Regions from separate parts of the Homo sapiens genome. Here all the other regions are linked to region 3. The links come from fine-mapping of genetic effects on gene expression. A gene starts in region 3. Each other region holds a variant in brackets. All regions are shown on one strand. Distances are between the middles of the regions.

The links.
Region 1: its variant is fine-mapped to the expression of TMC6 in whole blood (INTERVAL, PIP above 0.99).
Region 2: its variant is fine-mapped to the expression of TMC6 in left ventricle (GTEx, PIP 0.99).

What each region holds. Positions count from the first base shown.
Region 1 is chr17:78,066,508-78,073,550 of GRCh38, forward strand. TNRC6C (trinucleotide repeat containing adaptor 6C) reads left to right here. Exons shown (of 23, transcript NM_001142640.2): 7 at 1,250-1,416; 8 at 4,578-4,658; 9 at 6,530-6,587. It also overlaps the pseudogene UBE2V2P2 and the pseudogene RNU6-625P. Among named protein-coding and RNA genes, the nearest start is that of TMC6, 59 kb to the right of the region's middle. The variant A/T (reference allele first, on the strand shown) is at 3,986.
Region 2 is chr17:77,248,153-77,255,195 of GRCh38, forward strand. LACAT1 (lung adenocarcinoma-associated transcript 1) reads left to right here and starts at 5,662. Exons shown (of 3, transcript NR_188630.1): 1 at 5,662-6,369. RefSeq lists an enhancer at 5,974-7,043. The variant A/AT (reference allele first, on the strand shown) is at 3,458.
Region 3 is chr17:78,125,926-78,131,300 of GRCh38, forward strand. TMC6 (transmembrane channel like 6) reads right to left here and starts at 2,830. Exons shown (of 20, transcript NM_001127198.5): 1 at 2,687-2,830; 2 at 852-981; 3 at 599-723; 4 at 352-441. The coding sequence starts at 907. It overlaps TMC8 (transmembrane channel like 8), which reads left to right and starts at 4,846. Exons shown (of 16, transcript NM_152468.5): 1 at 4,846-4,926; 2 at 5,356-5,375. RefSeq lists silencers at 944-993, 1,044-1,123, 2,394-2,923 and enhancers at 1,464-1,713, 4,924-5,053.

The DNA.
Region 1 (7,043 bases), 59 kb before region 3:
TTTTGAGAATTTGTCCTTGGAGGCACAGTTATGTGCCTATTCCATATGTTTATCAGCCTTGTATCTTCATTGAAGACCCAGCTAACTGTGCTCTTACCTAGTCTTTGCCCTTCTTCATATTCTTCCAAGAAGTGAAAATTTGGGGTAATTTTGATACCGAAAATCACTTTGTATTTTAAGATAGGAGGAAAAAACAATATCTGAAGTGGAAACTCGATAGTCACTTTGTAGCTCCATCTGCCTAAGGCCTCCATCCTGCTAGTCTGTAAGCATCTCCTGCGGGCTTGTTAGAAATGCAGCCTGTCGGGCCCAACCTCAGGCCTGCCAGACTTCACATGATCCAGCTGACTGTCACGAGTGGACAGGTTTGAGAAGCTCTGGTCTGTGTGACTTAATGCTCATAGGTTTGGATCAAGCAGTGATTAAGAATCAGACAGAGATGCTCATTTCAGCAGCACATGTACTAAAATTGGAACAATACAGAGAAGATTCGCGTGGTTCCTATGCAAGGATGAGATACAGATTTATGAAGCATCCCATATACAAATTTTCCTGCCACTTGTGATGGCTCATGACTGTAATCCCAACACTTTGGGATGCCGAGGCAGGAGGACTACTTGAGCCCAAGAGTTTGAGACCAGCCTGGGCAACATAGTGAGACCCCATCTCTATTAAAAAGAAAAAAAAAATTAGCTGGATGTGGTGGCACATGCCTGTAGTCCTAGCTACTTGAGAGGCTGAGGCAGGAGGATCACTTGAGCCCAGGAGTTTGAGGTTGCAGTGAGCTGTGATTGCACTACTATAATCCGGGCAACAGAGCAAGACCCTGTTTCAAAAAAAAGAAAAAAACCTACAAATTTTAAAAACCACACAGGACAATGAAATGTTTTAGGAATCTACATTTCTGTAGCCTTTTCATACCATGTAGAGATTGCCACCTTCCCTGGTGGCCCCAGGATTTGTTCTTAGCATGTTTATGTTTCAGAATGATGTGTAGTTGGTTAAGGAAGTTTAGAACAGCACAGAGTACAAATAGCTGATGTTTGAAGGAAAAATTATATACATATACATGTTTATTTACATATGTAGCAAGAGAAATTCAATTCTGAGATCTGGGAGAAATGAAGGCATAAAAAGGTAGATTACAATGCATCATTTGTCCCACGACCCCTAAATTATATGTTACAGTGGAAGCATTGTCTGCGTTAGGGACATGAATTTGATAAGTTCATGTTTGCTCTGTTTCTAGCTTCAAAATCTATGCAAGAAGGCTGGGGCAGTGGTGGGGATGAAATGAACCTCAGTACCAGCCAGTGGGAGGATGAAGAAGGGGACGTGTGGAATAATGCTGCTTCCCAAGAAAGCACCTCCTCCTGCAGCTCCTGGGGGAACGCCCCCAAAAAAGGACTTCAAAAGGTAAGTACAACACTCTTAACGACGGTACACCCTGAAAACCAAAGGTACTTCAGACACATTCAGTATCCAGTTAATCAGACAAAAAGATAGACCTGAGGTTCTCAAAGTAGTCTTAGGACCCTTGGAGGTCCCAGAGACCCTTTCAGGGGAGTAAGCAAGGTCACAACTATTATCATGCCAGTACTAAGACTGTCTTTTTCATTTGAAGTCTCTCTCCGGTATAGGGTAGAGGTGTCCAGAGAACTTTATTGTAGCAGAGAATGTGCAGAAACAGGCATGAAAATCCAGCCATTTCTCTTAAGCCAGACATAGAGATTTGCCAAAAGGCAAAACAGTGCCACCCTTCTCATGAAAAATTAATTACTTTTTATTTTAAAATGTTAGGTTAATGTGTAGTGACTATTATTTTTAAGCAAAATTATATTTTTAAATTTTCTCAGTTTTAATTTCTAATACAGTAAATAGCAATAGACACAACTCATGTCAACAGAAGTTCTTTGGGATCTTCAGTCTCTAAGAGAGTATTATAGGGTCCTGAGACCAAAAAGTTTGAGACAGATGGTTAAGAAGTCTTAAAACAGATGGGCAGGCAGGGCACAGTGGCTCACACCTGTAATCCCGGCACTTTGGGAGGCCAAAGTGGGTGGATCACTTGAGGTCAGGAGTTCAAGTCCAGCCTGGCCAACATGGTGAAACCCCATCTCTACTAAAAATACAAAAACTAGCTGGGCGTGGTGGTGGGTGCCTGTAATCCCAGCTACTCGGGAGGCTGAGGCAAGAGAATTGCTTAAACCTGGGAGGCGGAGGTTGCAGTTGCAGTGAGCCAAGATCGCCTCACTGCACTCCAGCCTGGGCGACAGAGCGAGACTCCCTCTCAAAAAAAAAGACACAAATGTGCGGTCATCTAGAAAACACTGAGATACACATCTCATATATACATGAGCTACATGAGACGTGTATCTCATTTTTTTCTAGATGACTGCCCAATTCAGTCCACATTCAGCATGACTGAATTTCAAGTAGGTCACAAACTTAAATATTAAAAATATGAAAACATGAAAGAACATTAAAAACAATTTTGGACTCAGAGAGGCCTAACTATGACCAAAATCTAAAAGCCATAAAATAAAATTTTTTTGTGTCAATAGATAAATGTAAAAACTGTACATGACAGAAAATACCATAATCAAAGTCAAAAGAAAAATAGCAAACTGGAAAAATATGTTTATAACTCATATCATAGAGAGGGCCAATCCCCTGATACATAAAGTCCTAGAAACTGATTTAAAAAAAAAATCAGCCAGAAACCCAGTAGAAAAAGGAGCACAGAATGTGAAGAGTAGCTGGTCCACAGAGAAGGAGCACCAGTGGCTCCTAGACACGGACTCACAGGAAGGCAGTGCAGTTCCAGACAGCACTCAGAGACACCTGCCATTTTTCATCTCTCAGACCCACAGAAAGCCAGCGTTTTGATTTTTTTATTTAAAAAAATTTTTTTAGAGACAGAGTCTTGCTGTGTCACCTTAGGGGCTGGAGTACAACCTTGAACTCCTGGGCTCGAATTGTCCTCCTGCCTCAGCCTCCTGAGTAGCTGGGTCTACAGGTGCATGCCACTCTGCCCAACTAATTTTATTTTTTATTTTTTCTGTAGAGACAGAGTCTCACTTTGTGGCATTTATACAGTTTTGTATTGCAGCATTTTTGTAGTAAAAAGATAACAATAATTTATGTGTACATTGATGGAGTAACAAGTTAATTATGTCACTTCTACATTATACAGAACTAAAAGGAAATTCTATCTATGTATTGATATGAAAAGATCACTAAAGTACATTGTTAAATTAAAAGCAAGGTGCAGAAAAACATGTACAGCACACACCCTATTTTGTGGGGTAGGAGGAAGAAAACGTGTGTGTGTGTATGTGAGTGTGTGTATGCATGCATGCACACGTAGTGTATCAGCTTCTACAGAATGTTCTAAATTCTCTGGAAGGGCAAATAAGAAACTGCTATGAGTAGTGCCTCTTCGAGAGAACAGGAACTAAGCAAATGGGGTGGCATGAGATGAAAACTTTCTTTATACCTTGTTTATACTTTTGAATCGTGTGAATGTATTCATGTTCAAAAAAATATAGTTTATAAAAGCATTCAGTTAATAATCAGCAGAAACCAGAAACTAAAATCAGAGCTCTCCGCTCATGAGGAGTAGAAGTGATTACAGACATCAAAAAGAATCCTTTTTACAGTTGGGCTGGCAAATAATCCAGTTAATGATGGGACCAAAAATAGCAAATTGGTAAATTAAAATCTTGACTAATCTGGCTCTGGCAGCATAGTAATGATTGAAATAGCCCCAAAATAAGCTAGTTCCTTGAGGAAAGAAAGCCTGTTTATAGAGCTCCATATGCTCCATGATATAGCTGTGGCAGGCTCAATTGTGAAAAACACTATGAAGAATATTTTTGGAAGGGAATTTTTTTCATATTGTAATAATGCATCATTAGAACCTTTGCATTTATAGGCTCAGAGGGAAGTTATTGAGAAGCCTCCTGGCTCTTCTGTGGTGCCG[A/T]GCCCTCCCCCACCCCCACTGCTCTTTCTGTAGCTGACCTTTTTCCTCATCCTCTCCTTCACTGACATTTTCCTCCTTATTCCTTTTCTCTACCCTATGAGCTATAAGTAACAAATAGTTAATAAAATTAACAGGTTGTTTCATCCTTTCTTCTTGCTGCCTCTTTACTCATTGGAATAAACCCCCTCATTTTATCATTTTTCAGAATAAAGCTTAGAAAAGGCAAAAAGTGTAATTTTTAGTAAACTTCACATAGGGCTGTGTTCAAGGGAGCGCTTAGGATTATTGGATAGTAAAAGTAGTCTATATTTGTGATAAACTAAATTAATTATCTGGGAAAGAGAAATAATTATCTTGCTTTAAGTTCATAAATTGCACATATATACCAACCTGCAAATGTACCTTGATGCTTTCCGTAGCAGTAGCCACGAAATACTGTTAGGGAGTTTCTGGAATACAGCATTATTCAATGTTAATACAAAAAGATCCTGTGACTTTTAAATGACCCTGAATTTAGGCTGTCTCCCATTTCTGGTAGAAATGCATTAAAATGTAGCTCATGGACTTCCCCCTTTCCCACACTTTGTTCAAGGGCATGAAGACGTCTGGCAAGCAGGATGAGGCCTGGATCATGAGCCGGCTGATCAAACAACTCACAGACATGGGCTTCCCGGTAACTGGCGTCGTAGTTTACTGCTACCCACCATGCTTCCCAAAATGAAATGCCCTCATTGTTTCCTCTCCATGTTTGTTATGTGTGTCAGAAGACACCAAGATTGTTTGAGGAATGAGATATTGACATCATCTAACTCTTAAATCTCCCTTTTACCTGGGTAGTTTGGGTTAGAGATCATTGCTTTGAACTACAGCAAAGACCCACACAATTTCTATCAAAAAGGGTGTGAGAGCCTTTTCCTAGAATAGAAAATGCTTTTTTTTTTTGGAGACAGGGTCTTGCTCTGGCACCTAGGCTGCAGTGCAGTGGTGTGATCAAGCAGTCCTCCTGTCTCGGCCTCCCGAGTAGAGCTGGGACTACAGGCGTGAGCCACCATGCTCGGCTAATTTTTGTATTTTTGGTAGAGACGAGGCTTCACTGTGTTGGCCAGGCTGGTCTCGAACACCTGGGCTCAAGCGATCTGCCCGCCTCGGCCTCCCAAAGTGCTGGGATTACAGGCATGAGTCACTACGCCCAGCCGGAAAATGCTGTGTGATTTTTAATTTTCATTGGTTTATACAGTTTTATGTTTACTTTTAATTTATAATTAAACGTGAATTTCATTAGTGTATAGAGTATATTGACAGAGATCACAAAAGAAAACTTGATGTAAAGTACTAAGGTTTCATATCCAGAAAAAGTATCCTAACCAGACCTACTTAGTTCCTAAGTTTCCAGTCATACGTAGGGAGAATTCATAATTGTAGGGCGTTCCCCTGAAAATACCACAGTCTGTTCAATTCCTGAGATTGGATGGCAGTTCAGATGGCAAGGGATGTCGCCCATATTCGCCATGTATTCGCTTCATGGGACTTCTTTCAAAATCCTTATTCAAATTAGTGTTTATCTTTCAGTTACCGTAGATGCTTCTAAAAGAATGAGTCCAGAATGGCCTCCATGTAGCGGAGGAACCCCATCCTTCACACTGGGCACAGGCCCTCTGTATTGGGCAGGGCATTGTGTTGGTGGCCCAGGCTCTGCCTGTGTGAGTGGGCAAGAGGTTGACGGTGGCTTCAGCGTGTCCTGATTTATACTGTCTCAGTTATCATGGCACCCTAGCGGCTTCAGTCATCCCCTGAGATTACTGTGTTCCAGTCATAAATTATCAAAATGAATCTACTTGTTTTGTTTTTCTGTTTCTTAGAGAAAAGTTGTTGATGGTGGAGCCTAGAGTTGATGAAGCGAAAAATGCAGCTCTGCACTCCGACAGTGACTGACATAGTTGCTGGGACTAGAGAGAGACATGGAGATGGGCCTCACTGGGACAGGAATCCTGTCCTAGGAGAGCATCCTGTCCTCATGGCAGGTGTCCTTGTCTGTGGCCCTGCTGTCTTGGCATAGATTGCACCTTTATGGAATCATTGCTACTCAGTGTTGTACAGAATGATTTTAGGACCAGACACAGTGGCTCACACCTGTAATCCCAACACTTTGGGAGCCCAAGGCAGGAGAACCACTTGAGCCCAGGAGTTTGAGACCAGCCAGGGCAACATGGAGAGAACATATCTCTACAAAAATAATACTAATAGTTACATTTTAAAAAAATGAAAATGATTTTAGGAGTACTTACAAGGTTTTACTGCCACTCTGCATTTTGTTTCCAAAGTGTTAAATACAAGGGCTTTACTTTGAAAATCAAGTCAGTACATTTTCTTATTACAAGTATTTTTAATTCAAAAGACATTGTCTCTAACCTCAACAGTGAAGAAATGTATTTCCAGTTCCAAAACCTAATAACTATGTCTTTAAGTTGATAGTGATTAAATTGTTTGTAACCTTTCCTTTTGTTAATTAATGTGCACTAATGAAAACTCTGTTTTCCTACACAGAGAGAGCCAGCTGAGGAGGCCTTGAAGAGTAACAATATGAATCTTGATCAGGCCATGAGTAAGTCATACAACATCCTTTTTAAAAAGGTACCCAGCTGTGAAGTTTTACTTTCCAGAAGCATTTGATTGTAGTCATGGTTTAATGGTTAATATGTCCTGGGTAGACAGGACCAGGCCACAGTGAAGGGGCAACCACACAACAAGCTGGAACCACAGAGGGAGCCTCTTGGGATTAGCGGACTTTGGAGGTGAATCGCCAATGCCATATTTGAAGCATGTTGGCTTTTCTCATATTTTCCCGTTATGTTTTGAGGGAAGGTAATAATGACACTCTGAGAGACACTGGAACCACACACTAGACTTCAGTGGACACTGAGTGCGTTCCTCGTGCCTTGCCCCAGAACGGACTTGCCTAGGGGCCACCAGAAGCGTTGCCTTGCTGGCTGAGCACCAACTGTTGTTGAGAGAGAAGATTTTCTGTCAAGGAACAAGCAACCCTAGTTCTAGAGCTGCT
Region 2 (7,043 bases), 880 kb before region 3:
GGTGCCAGGGGCGCTGGCTTGTCACTCAAGACTCCCCACTCCATCTGCCCTCCCCCACTCTCCCACTAACCAGGGGGGACCCACCTGCACCTCTGGTCACCACTCATGCTCCCTGGTGCTGGGCACCCCAGGGACAGGAAGAGGGCTGGGTGTTCCTGGCTCCTGCACTGCTTCCCAGGCCTGATCCCCATCTTTCTGCACCTGCCTCCCACCCATCAGCTTCCGCTAGACTGGAAGCCTCCAGAGGGCAGGTGCTGCCCCTCTTTCCCTTGTGCCTGGATTCCGTTGGCATCTAATCACAGACGAGGGACTGTGTCCCCTTCTCCACCTCCGTGGAAACTGTGTCTCACTCTCTATTCCAGGCCGAGCTGTCCATCCTCTGCTGGAAGCCTTGTGCCATCAGCCCTCACCTCCCCCTTCAAGCCTAGACATTCTCTCTCCTGGCGTAAATATGTTAACTCAAGGTTCTTTGCTCTAAAACCAAGGAGTTGTCTCCTCTCCCAGGTCCACCTCCTCTCTCTCGTGAACTCCCTGCCCCTCCACCTCATCCCTCCTCCATGACCTCCCCCTACTCACCATCTGCCCCTTCTGCCAACCCAGCGAGCTGCAGCTCTCCCTGGCATGTCACTCTCTAAACCTTCTGTCCCTTGGTTACGAGTGCAGTTCTCGCCTGGATTTCTTCCCGGCTCTTTGACTTCTCCCCAACCCTTCTTTTTCTGTTTTCCCCTTAAATGTGGACATCCCCACGTCCAGGACCTGGTCTCTGGCCCTTCTCCTCTGATTCATCTCAGTGGCGTTTCTCCCAAATCCCCGATTGCAGCCACAGCCACATGTCAATTAGGTCACCTCCATGTCCCGGCTAAGACGTGCCTCCTGGCCCCTGATGCGCCATCTCCCAGATGGAAATGCCATCATTGTATTTTTGCTCTGTCCCCACCAAAGGCAACACAAAGCATCTCCATCTGTTCCTTCATGTTCCCTACTCAGTGAATGACCGCTTATTTACCCACTGGCCCAGGCTCAGCTTGGATGTCCCCGGGCCGTCGTTTCCAGATCTCATCTTCAAATCCTGGCGATCTTCGCCCAGGAGCTGTGGACTCCTCTTCTCTGCCTGCCGCCCCTGCCCTGTCCAGCGTCCACCTCTCCCAAATGGCCCACTGGGTCCCTCCCTCCTGGCCCCCCTGCATCTAGGAGCAGCCCTCCTCCAACAGTTGGAAGGGTCTTCCCAAAACACAGATGAGACCTTGTCATCTTGAAACTCTTCATTGGCTCTGAATTGTCTTAGGATCAAGCCCAAACTCCTTCAGAGTCTGGGAAGGGGCCCCTCGTTCTGGGTCTGGCTCTGTCTCCCAGGGTCTCCCCCGCCTTGCCTGCTCTGTCTGGCCACACTGACAGTGCCCTGATGGGCCATGTCCTCTTCCCCTCAGCGCCTTTGCGTGTCCCAGCTTTCTGAGCCCAGACAGCCCTCTCCCCATTTTGGGGGGCCCACCTCACCTATCAGGGTGCAGCTTCTCCTCTGAGAAGACTTCTTTGCTCCCCAAGCCTGGATTTGATGCCATCTGCCTGTATTGACCTGGCTAAGCCAACACCCTAGCCCTAGGCTACCCTCAACCAACACCCCTGACCACACTGTGTGTGAATTACACCCCTGACCACACTGTGTGTGAATTACACCCCTGACCACACTGTGTGTGAATTACACCCCTGACCACACTGTGTATGAATTACACCCCTGACCACACTGTGTGTGAATTACACCCCTGACCACACTGTGTGTGAATTCCTCCTTTCCTTGTTTCTGTGCCCATTCAAGCTGTAAGCCCCTTTGGAAGAGACTGGGCCTTCACAATTATCATCTCAGCACCAAGCACAGAACCCACCTCAATAAATGGTTAATTTGAGACTTCTGTCTCTCTCTTTTTTTTTTTTTTTGAGACAGAGTTTCGCTCTTATCCCGCAGGCTGGAGTGCAATGGTACGGATCTCGGCTCACTGCAACCTCTGCCTCCCAGGTTCAAGCGATTCTTCTGCCTCAGCCCCCCAAGTAGCTGGGATTACAGGCATGCACCACCACGCCTGCCTAATTTTTTTTTTCTTTTTTGAGATGGACCTGACTCTGTCACCCAGGCTGGAGTGCAGCGGCGCAATCCTGGCTCACTGCAACCTCCACCTCCCGGGTTCAAGTGATTCTCCTGCCTCAGCCTCCCAAGTAGCTGGGATTACAGGCGCCCGCCACCACACCCAGCTAATTTTTGTATTTTTAGTAGAGATGGGGTTTCACCATGTTGGTCAGGCTGGTCTCAAACTCCTGACCTCACGTGATCCACCCGCCTCAGCCTTCCAAAGTGCTGGAATTACAGGCGTGAGCCACCACGCCCAGACGAGACTGCTCTCTTTTAATTTATATTTATTTATTTATTATTTTTAGAGTCAGGGCCTCACCACATTGCTCCGGCTGGAGTATGGTGGCTACTTACAGGTGCCAGCACAGCATACGGCAACCTCAAATGACTGGTCTCAAGCGATCCTACTGCCTCAGCCTCTCAAGTAGCTGAAACTAGAGATATCTTTATTCTTAATGTAAGTATTTAGTGCTATAAGTATCCCTCTCGGCTGGGCACAGTGGTTCACACAGGTAATCCCAGTACTTTAGGAGGCTGAAGCGGGAAGATCACTTGAGGCCAGGAGTTCAAGACTGAGCAACCTCAAAACCCTGTTTCTAGCAAAAAAAGAAAAAAAGCAAGCTAGGTGTGGGGGGCATGTTCCTGTAGTCCCAGTTCATCAGGAGGCTGAGGTGGGAGGATTGCTTGAGCCTGAGGAGTCGAGGCTGCAGTGGGCTGTGATCACACCACTACACTCCAGCCTGGGCAACAGAGCAAGACTCTGTCTCAAAAAAATAATAAAAAATAAAAATAAGAAAATTTCTTTCTCAGCATTGCCTCAGATGCATCCCACATATTTTGGTATGCTGTCCTTTAATTCTCATTCAGTTTTATAGATTTCTTAATTTTCTTTGAGACTTCCTCATTGACGTGGATATTTAGAGGTGTACTGTTCAATTTCCAAGTGTTTAGAGATTTTCCTGTAGTCTTTCTGTTACTGATTTTTTTTTTTTTTTTTTGAAACAGAGTCTCACTCTGTCACCCAGGCTGAAGTGCAGTGGCACCATCACAGCTCAACCCCACCCCCCATCAGCAGTCTTGGCCCCACAATCCCTAGGCTCAAGCAATTCTCGTGCTTCAGCCTCCCAAGTAGTTGGGACTACAGGCATGTGCCACCACACCCGGCTATTTTTTGTAACTTTAGTAGAGTCGGGGTTTCACCATGTTGGCCAGGCTGGTCTCAAACTCCTGACCTCAAGTCATCCACATCACTTCTGGCCTCCGTAGTTTCAGATGAGATAATTTGAACTGGTGTCCCTATAGGTAATGTGTTGTTTCTCTGGCTGTTCTGAGGAG[A/AT]TTTTTTGTCTTTAGTTTTCAGAAGTTTAATGATGATATCTCAGTGTAGATTTCTTTGGCTTCTTCTGTTTGAAGTTCAGTTTCCTGAATCTGTAAGCTTATGTCTTTTACCAGATTTGGAAAGTTTTCAGCCATTATTTCTTCAAATACTCCTTCAGCCTCACTCTCTTCTCCTCCTTAGCCCCTATGATGTGAGTGTCAGATTTGTTTGTTATGGTCCCATTGGATGTGGACGTTCTGTTTATTTCTTATCCGTCTATTTTCTCCCTGTGGTTCAGACTGGGTACTTTGGATTGATCTGTCCCCAGATTCACTGATTCTGTCGTCTGTCATTTCCACTCTACAACTGAGCCCATCAGGGAGTTTTTAAAATTTCTGCAATGACATTTTTCAGTTCTGTAATTTCCATTTGGTTCTTTCTAAATACCCACTATTTCTTTGCTGAGAATTTCTATATTTTCATTTGTTTCAAGAGAATTTGCAATTGCTTGTTGAATTTTTTATTTTTATGTGTTTTTTTTGATGGTTGCTTTAAAATCCTGGTCACATGGCTGGGCGCAGTGGCTCATGCCTGTAATTCCAGCACTTTGGGAGGCCGAGGAGGGTGGATCACTTGAGGTCAGCAGTTCGAGGCCAGCCTGGCTAACATAGTGAAAGCCTGTCTTTATTAAAAATACAAAAATTAGCCGGGTATGATGGCACATGCCTGTAATCCCAGCTACTCAGGAGGCTGAGGCAGGAGAATCGCTTGAACTCAGGAAGCAGAGGTTGCAGTGAGCTGAGATCGCACCACTGCACTCCAGCCTGTGTGACAGAGTAAGACTGTCTCCAAAAAAAAAAAAAAAAGAGTAAAATCCTGGGCACGTAACTCCAACGTCTGATTCATCTCAGGGTTCAGTTGACGGTCTTCCCACTCACATTGTGATTTTCGTAGTTCTTGGTGGGATGAGTGAATTTCACCATATCCTGGACATTGTGGCTATTAGGTGAGGAGACTTCAGGTCCTGTTTGCATTTTTTACTTTGGTAGCAGCGGCCCTGCTTAGGTTTAGCACCCAGGTCTTGGGCTACTTTTGGGGGCTGTGGTTCCAATGAAAATCTGATTTGCAGAGCCTCTGCCGTGCTATAGAGGTCAGCTCGGCTTGTGTGGTGCTGCTTAAGGAGGCAGAAGGAGCTTTCCCAGGCTGGACATTCATTGCCTCCAGGTGGGAGAAGGGAGTCTCCCGCTCACAGGGACAGACAGGCCTTCTGCTTGTGGTGGGCTTTCTCCCTGCCATCAACGTCTCCCCCTCTCTCTGCTGTGCCATGATTTTGGGTGGGGGAGTGGAATTTCAGGTCCAGTGAGGAGGAAAGGGTTAACCCTGGCCAATAATTAGCAGGAGGGTGCTGGGCCAACCCCTTTGGTGGTTCTGCCTGGCTTGCTTGGTGGGTTTTTTGTTGTTCATTTTTTTTTTTTTTTTTTTGAGTTTGTCGCCCAGCCTGGAGTGCAATGGCGCAACCTTGGCTCATTGCAACCTCTGCCTCCCAGGTTCAAGCGATTCTCCTGCCTCAGCCTCCTGAGTAGCTGGGACCACAGGCACCCACCACCACGCCCGGCTAATTTTTGTATTTTTAGTAGAGGCGGGGTTTCACCATGTTGGCCAGGCTGGTCTCAAACTCCTGACTTCGGGTGATCCACCCGCCTCAGCCTCCCAAAGTGCTGGGATCACAGGTGTGAGCCACTGTGCCCAGCTTTTTTTTTTTTTTTTTTTACAGGTCTTACTCTGTTGCCCACGCTGGAGTACAGTGGTGCGATCATAACTCACTGCAGCCTTGATCTCCTGGGCTCAAGTGATCCTCCCACCTCAGCCTCCTGAGTAGCTGGGACTGTACGCAGCTGCCACTATGCCCGGCTAATTTTTAAGTTTTCTTTGTAGAGACAGGGTCTGCTGGGTTACCCAGGCTGGTATCAAATCCCTGGTCTCAAGAGATCCTCCTGTCTTGAAGCGCTGGGATTACAGCTGTGAGCAATCGGGCCCAGCCTTGCCTAGTGTGTTGGGGCGACTTGCCTTTAATCTAGGAGAGAAAGGAGCCTACTTGGCTGCCTTCTGTTGCTAGGTCGGGAGTTGGGAAATGCACGCCTGGGCGGGTCCTGTATTGGGTGGGGGTGAGGGGTGTCATAATGCCCTGTTGATAAATATTCCTGACCCAGCCTTGGGGTCCTTTACCAGCTCTCCTGCTCCTTCCACCTCAGGGCCCTCTTAGGGTTGCCTCTTACATTCTTTCCAGGGCTTAGCAGACAGGAACAGGGAGGGTCGGGTTTAGGCCATCTTACCCAGACCGGAAGTCTCTAAGTGTTTGATTGAGTGTTTGTTTGAAGAAAGTGATGAACCCAGGACCTCGAGCCAGGAAGATTTTTCCCGGTGAAAAGCAGAGGGATTGACTCACGCTCGGTTCTGAGTTCCAGGCCTGACTCCAGGGCTCACCAGCTTCTTCCACAACCCGCACAACTTGAACGCTTGGTAGCATCTCCACGCAGCAGTGGGCACCCTGGCTTCTGGAGGAGCCCAGGCTGCATTTACCCCTCCATGGTGCATCTCATAGGATCAACTGGACCCGCGAAAGGCACTGGCTGCGGAAAAGCAGCCAACTGCTCCCCAGCGAAGGGGATGGCCGGAAGCGAGGAGAGGGAGAAGCCCCAGCAGAGACCCCAGGAGGAAAAGACCCCACAACGGGGCCACTGGGAACCCATGATGTTGGTTACCAATGTGATTGGAGGTTCGGAACGACGGACGTGTGGCCCTGAAGTGGGAAACAGAAAAGCTGAAGGGCGAGACCTGGGAGGGAGCCCCCCACCCCCGCGGACTCCAGAGACCCAACCTTCCTTCCCTGCGCTCCGGCCGGACGTTCTCCCTGCCCCTGTGGCCGAGCCTGGTAAGTTCGCAGCAAACAGGAGTTTGGGGCTTTACAAGCCTCCAGAGGGGTCCATGGGCATTTGGGTAGATTGTTATACTGCCCCTGGCAGGAGGGCAAGGCCCTTCATGGGAGCCATAAGCTGGAGACCTAACAGAGCTCGCAGCTCGGCCACAGGGCTCTGTTCCAGGGGCATTGGCCACTGGCTTCCAGTACCTGTTCAGCCTCCCAGCTCCTTGTTGCCTGGAATCTCCACCACTGATCAGCGTGTAAACACCTATGTGGGGGACACGGGGGCAGGGGGGTCCAGGAAGGCAACTTTTGGGGGATAGGGTGGGAAGAAAGAGGGACCTCAGAGGCCAGTTCTTCCCCATCCTACTCTATTTCCTCCTGTAACCATGGGAAATGTCTTTCTGTGCCCGATCCTGTATGGGGTGCGGATGGGGCACACAGATGAATCAGACCCGGCCCCCTCTTTGTGCCAATTCATAAGCACTTCATCCACGGCTCAGCCCTGTGAAAGAGCTCCTCGGGCCCAGGAATGCAATACAGTGAGAACACTTTCCGGTCTTGCCTCCAGGTGACGATTCAGCACACAGGAAGGTGGCCCTGCCCAGGGCCAAGCTCTCTCTCAGTTGGCACCTGGCCAGGTGAGGGGGCTGCTCCCTGTCACAGAATAGGAAGCTGAGGCCCGT
Region 3 (5,375 bases):
GCCTCCCTCCCCTCAGGATGGGCTCACCACAGGCCTCTGCGTCCCTCACCCCTTCCCAGGACCCAGGAAAATCCTTTCAACAAAGACTTCAGGCACCACTGCATTCCGAAAGCCTATTTTTACCCCGTGATGACTCTGGAGTCATTTTTGGAGCCCAGCGAGGGCCACATGGGGCTGTGCTGGGCCCCCAGGCAGCAGATGGGATGGGCTAGGAGCCCGCCCTGGGCCTGGCTCTGAGCTACGGGAGCAGCCACTACCCAGGGAGATGCCTGGCAGGAAGCCCAGCCCAGCCCCAGGGACTGGGGTCAACTCGGGGCCGGGGCCGAGGCCGAGGCTGAGGGTCCCACTCACCAATGGTGCGGCTGGGCATGCTGGCCAGGATGCGGAGTGTGGCCGTGCTCTGGGTGCCCTCGGGCCGCCAGAGTGTCTGCTGGCTACTTCCTACAAAGCAAGAAAGACTCACCAGGGGTCCTGGAGATGCCATTGGCCACAGTATCTCCCACCCCATCCCAGGCCTGCAGAGCTGGGAGGCCCGTCCTGAGGGGCTGGGGCACCCAAGTCTTGGTCCACACCACCCAGCATCCAGGCCTGAGCTCACCTGTCACCTCCCGCTCTCTCTGCTGCAGCTCCAGCCCCTCCTGGGCCGTGCACTGGCTCTGCTCCTGGATGAGCTGCTGGAAGGAGTCGTGCACTTCGCTTTCATCATAGGGGCTGGGGCCCTGGCTGCAGAGGGGGTTGGCGGGGGGGTCAGGCTCCAGCCACCTCTCTCCTTCCAGCAGCCCCTGCTCAGGTGACCTCTCCGTGGGGGGTGGAACATTCCAGCCTCCAGCCCCCAGCCCCAGAGCGCTTACCCCTGGTCCCCTGGGGTCTCAGGGACATCGAGGATGAAGGCCAGTGGCTGGGCCATGTCTCTGGCCAATGCCCGCTAGTCTGCAGACCTAGGGTAGCTCAGAGCCTGGGCGCCACCTCCGGAGCCCCCATCTGATGAGACAGGGGCACAGAGCCAGGGGTGGTCTTCAACGCCTGGCAGCTGTCCACACCACCCATTCCTGGGGGAACCACAGGAGGTGCCACTCACAGCCCAGACAGTCCCGCCCACCCCCCTATCACCCCAGGTACATAAATGGTGAGGCACCGAATAAGCCTCATGCCAGAATGGAATGGGGGGCCCCCTCCAGTGTCAGGGGAGGGGAGAGAGGAAGGAAGGGTGTGGGGTCTGCAGTTCCACATCTGTTTCCTCGATGTCGCCAGTCCCTGGGAAATGGGGAAGAGGTAGGGTGCCTGTAGACACAGCCCCTTTCAGGATCTCCATGCCCAGGGTTCTGGCACAGAGACACCTCCTTTTTGGAGAGAAAGGTCAGAGTAGGCTGTAGGCCTTCTCTGCGTCTGCCCTGTGACCTCAAAGAACTTCCTCTAGCAGGAAATTAGCTGCTGGAGCCCTCACCCCCAACCAGCCCCAGGCGGAAGCAGCACAGGGGGCTCCTCCCCCACACACAGAGGTCACTCCATGCCACCGCCGTCAGGGCGCCAAGGTCCTCATGTTCTCAGAAGACCCACTGCCCTGCATTCCATCATCCCAGGGCGGCCGGCTGGGGGTGGCCAGGACCTCAACAGGCCTCCTTTGTCCTGGCTCTGCCGTCACCCGGCACAACTGGAACCAGAGCAGCCTTGTCTGGGGCCCTGGGCTCGGGGCCCGTTCATCTGTGAGAGTGGAGCCAGGACTCAGCTCCCAGCCACCAGCGAGTCCTGCCGGCCTCTGCCCTGGACTCCTCCTGCGCTCACCCTCAGGAACTCAGGGCTCAAAGTCGGCCGGGTTGAAGGGCGCTTTCCTCGGACAGGCAAAGCCCGGGGGCGCCCCGACAGAGCAGCTCCTTGCAGGGGTGCCAGTCACAGGACCGGACGGCGCCCTCCCTCAGTGTCCTGGGTGCCATCTTCGGGCCCAGGCCCCACACCACCCCCTCCCTCCAGCAGGAGCAAAGACGTGGGAAAACCAGCCCAGAGCTGGGTCCGAGGCGGCCCCACCCAGCCTAACACGGGACAGCTGCCGAAAGAGGGGCTGAGGACGCCCCACCCAGTCCCTAGAGCTGGAATCCCTTCCTCCAGACAGGCCCTTCTAAGCTCAGGGAACCCGGGGACTCGGGCACCCAGCGCCCCAGCACTCCGCCCCGAGGCCCAGGCAAGTCCAGCGGAGTTTCCAGGCGCACCATTCCTGAGCTAGGTGGGGAGAGGCTGGGTGGCGCCCGTTTCCAGGAACCCCCACCCCAGCCGGCAGCGAGCTTCCCGGGAGCAGCCGCTACCCAGGGAGAACCGCAACCTGGCCCCAGAGCCCAGAGCGGCTGCAACTCTGGGGCCACCGAACCCGTCCAGCCGGCCTCCCTGTCCCCCGCCCCTTCCCATCCCGGCCACACCCCCTCCCCTCCCCTCCCCGTGCCCTGGCGCTCGGCTGGGGGACCTGGGTGGGGGCTGCGGATTTTGCTCCCCGCACTGTCCTCCCCGCCCCTGCCGCTCCCAGCTCTGTCCGAGCCGGAGGGTCAAGCCCTGGGAGCTCCAGGAGCACCCGGGGAGGGAACTCGGCTGCCAAATGGCCCCAGAGGCCGAAAGGAATTCAGGGGGGATTGCCGCTGTCCCCGCATAGGAGAAGCAGCTGGGGCTGGCGGGACCCGGGACCGGGATCGCGGCCGCTCACCTGGGAGGCGCCGGGGAGGAGGGGCCGCGCGCGCAGCCAGGGCTCACCTGTGCCCCGCAAGAGCCGCCGGGAACTGAGGTCTCGGCTCTCCTTGCCAAGGGAGTGGCAAAGGGCCCCAGGGGCGACTGGGCCAGTCGCAGGTCTGCCGGGGCCGGGGGAGTAGCCGCACCTCCCGGCCCACGTGGGCGGGGGGGGGGGGGGCGGGCCTCGGCTATCACGTGACCCGGCCCGGCCCGCGGCGCCCCCGCCCTCCTCCGGGCGCCCCGCGGCGACTATGCCTTCCTCCCCTGCCAACTTCCGACCCCTCCTCCTGAGGTCTGAGCTGGGCTGGATTCATTCCAGCCCCTGGTTGAAGTCCCCAATTTTTCTGACGCTCAGTTTCCCCAAGTTCCAAAAAGGGGCAATATTTCCAGACTCATCTGCTTCCCATGGTTAGGGATCGTCCAAGTAAGATGCCGCCGAAAGCCCCAGGGACACAGAGTATCTCACTCCAGATTGGGCAGCGCCCCCCCCCCCGCCGCCCCCGCAAGCCTCCTGCTGACTCTCCCCGACCCCGGCGGGGGGAGCCTGGTTATCTCCCACTCCTGACACCTGGGCGGGGTTCATTGTTTATCTAGCAAGAGTTCTGGCTCACTTCCTGTGTGCTGTGTGGAGAGGAGGGGATGAAAAGGAGGACACGCTGACACTTAGGTGACTGTCCCCAGGTGCTGTACCCGTTGCCCTGTTTTCTGTTATTCCCCATGAGCCAGGAAGGTATGCACTGATATTCCCATTTCACAGATGAGGAAACTGAGGCTGAGAGAAGTTAATCACCCTTTAGGGTGCCCCCAGCCAAAGCAGGAGACTTAGTGGTCCACCTGGGAACTCTATGGAGGAAACTGCCTTTGAGATTGTACCCCCCACCCCAAGCCCATTTGGAAGGGAGGGTCATTCCTGGCGGGGAGAAGCCATGAAGCAGGCAGGGTGAATGTGAGCTGGGGCCCAGGAGGGCAGGAGAGGGCACTGCTGCAGGGGAGAGCAGGCAAGCAAAAGCGAGGACCAGGCAGGGGTCAAGGCTGGGGCCTTTTGGAGCTGCCAGTGTGGTCCTCAGATGGCTACCCCAAGCTGGTTCTTGGCAAGTGGCACCCTGGCATGGAGACCCAGCCCCTGCCTCTCCTCCCACTGCTTCCCCCTCCCTGCATACCCACACTGAATTTGCATGAATGCCACCTCCTCTGGGGAGCCTCCCCAGATTGAACCCTGGTGGAGCACCTACCACTTCCTATTGACATGTACATCTGTGGTTCTGTGCCCCCTCCTACCCCAGCCCACTGTGTGCCCAGCACCAGCACATAGCTTGCGCCTGACACACAGAAAGGACTCTGGAAACCAGGAAGGAGGTGGGCAGAGAGGCAGAAAAGCTATGAACATTCAGACCTGAGATGACTGGGCCCTATAGCAGGTAGAGAGGGAGCAGAGAGGAAGGGCTGCGGGCTTCCCAGGGGCCCAAGGACAGAGAATTGGCAAAGATATGTCTTAAACATCTAGCCTGGGAGAGCATGAATGGAGCCAATTCCTGAGCACTTACTACCGGCCAGGTGCTAGGCCTGGGTCTTGGCACAACCATAACGCCAATGACAGGGGCTGGAAGTACAGCAGTAACACCAAGAGTATCTGGAAACCCAGCAGCCAGGTTCTGGGGAGCCCACCATCCTGTCATTATCACACCCTCCAGGGTGAGGCCGGCAGATAAAGAGTTTGGCCCCTGTGCCCCCACCGTTCCCATCCCCACCCATGTCAGGCTCCCAGCTCAGGCCTCGAGGTCAAGTCCTGCCTATCCAGGCTGGAAGGAGTTGAACAGAGAGGGCCTCAGCTGCAGGCTGGACATCCCTGGAGGCAGCCAGGCGGCAGACCCGGACCAGTGGACCCTAGGGCTGCAGGAGACCAGGCCCTGACTCCTGTGCAGAGGGGAAGGGTGGGCCACCCGCAGCCCAGCATGCACAGAGCTCCCTGGGAGGCCAAGTGGCCTACGCCTGTCACCTTCACCTCTGCATCTCAGGGGCCCACAGGAAGTGCCTGCTTGGCCTCAGTTTAAAGCAGAGGAAACCATGGGGTGAGAGGGGAGGAGGGAGGTAGTGGAGAGGGAAGCTGGGTTTCCTGTCATATGACCCCTCCTCTGGGCTCCCTCACCACCCTGCCTGGCTTGGCAGGAGTCGTCTGAGAAGGGGACTCCTCCAGGGACTTGGTCCCTAGGTCCCCAGGTGAGCTGGATGTCCAGTGGAGGGAGAATGCAGAGGGTGAGGGGCTGTGGGGGCCAGCTAGAGCCCTGCAAGGGTAGCAGTGGGTCCCTGCTCCTGTCCCCACGGCTGGGGCTGTAGCCACAGGTCCTCATCAGGGGCTCGCGGGGTACCTGGGACTGGAGGCTGGACCACAAGAAGGAAGACAGAAGGGGGTCCCCCGACATCCAGAGTCAGATGTGGCAGATGCCGAGTCCCAGGAACTGTGGGGTTTGGGACACAGGCTCTTCCGGAAGGGCAAACTGCCACGTGGAGAAGAGAGGGAATTGTCTCTCCTTGGGGTGACGGTGGGCCCAGGCACAGGTGGATGCGGGGTGCAGCAGGTCTTGGCTTTCTTTGCCTGTGCCGGTCCAGACTTTCTGTGCCCTTTGGATCTTTCACCCCATTTGACAGATGGGGAGACTGAGGCCGTG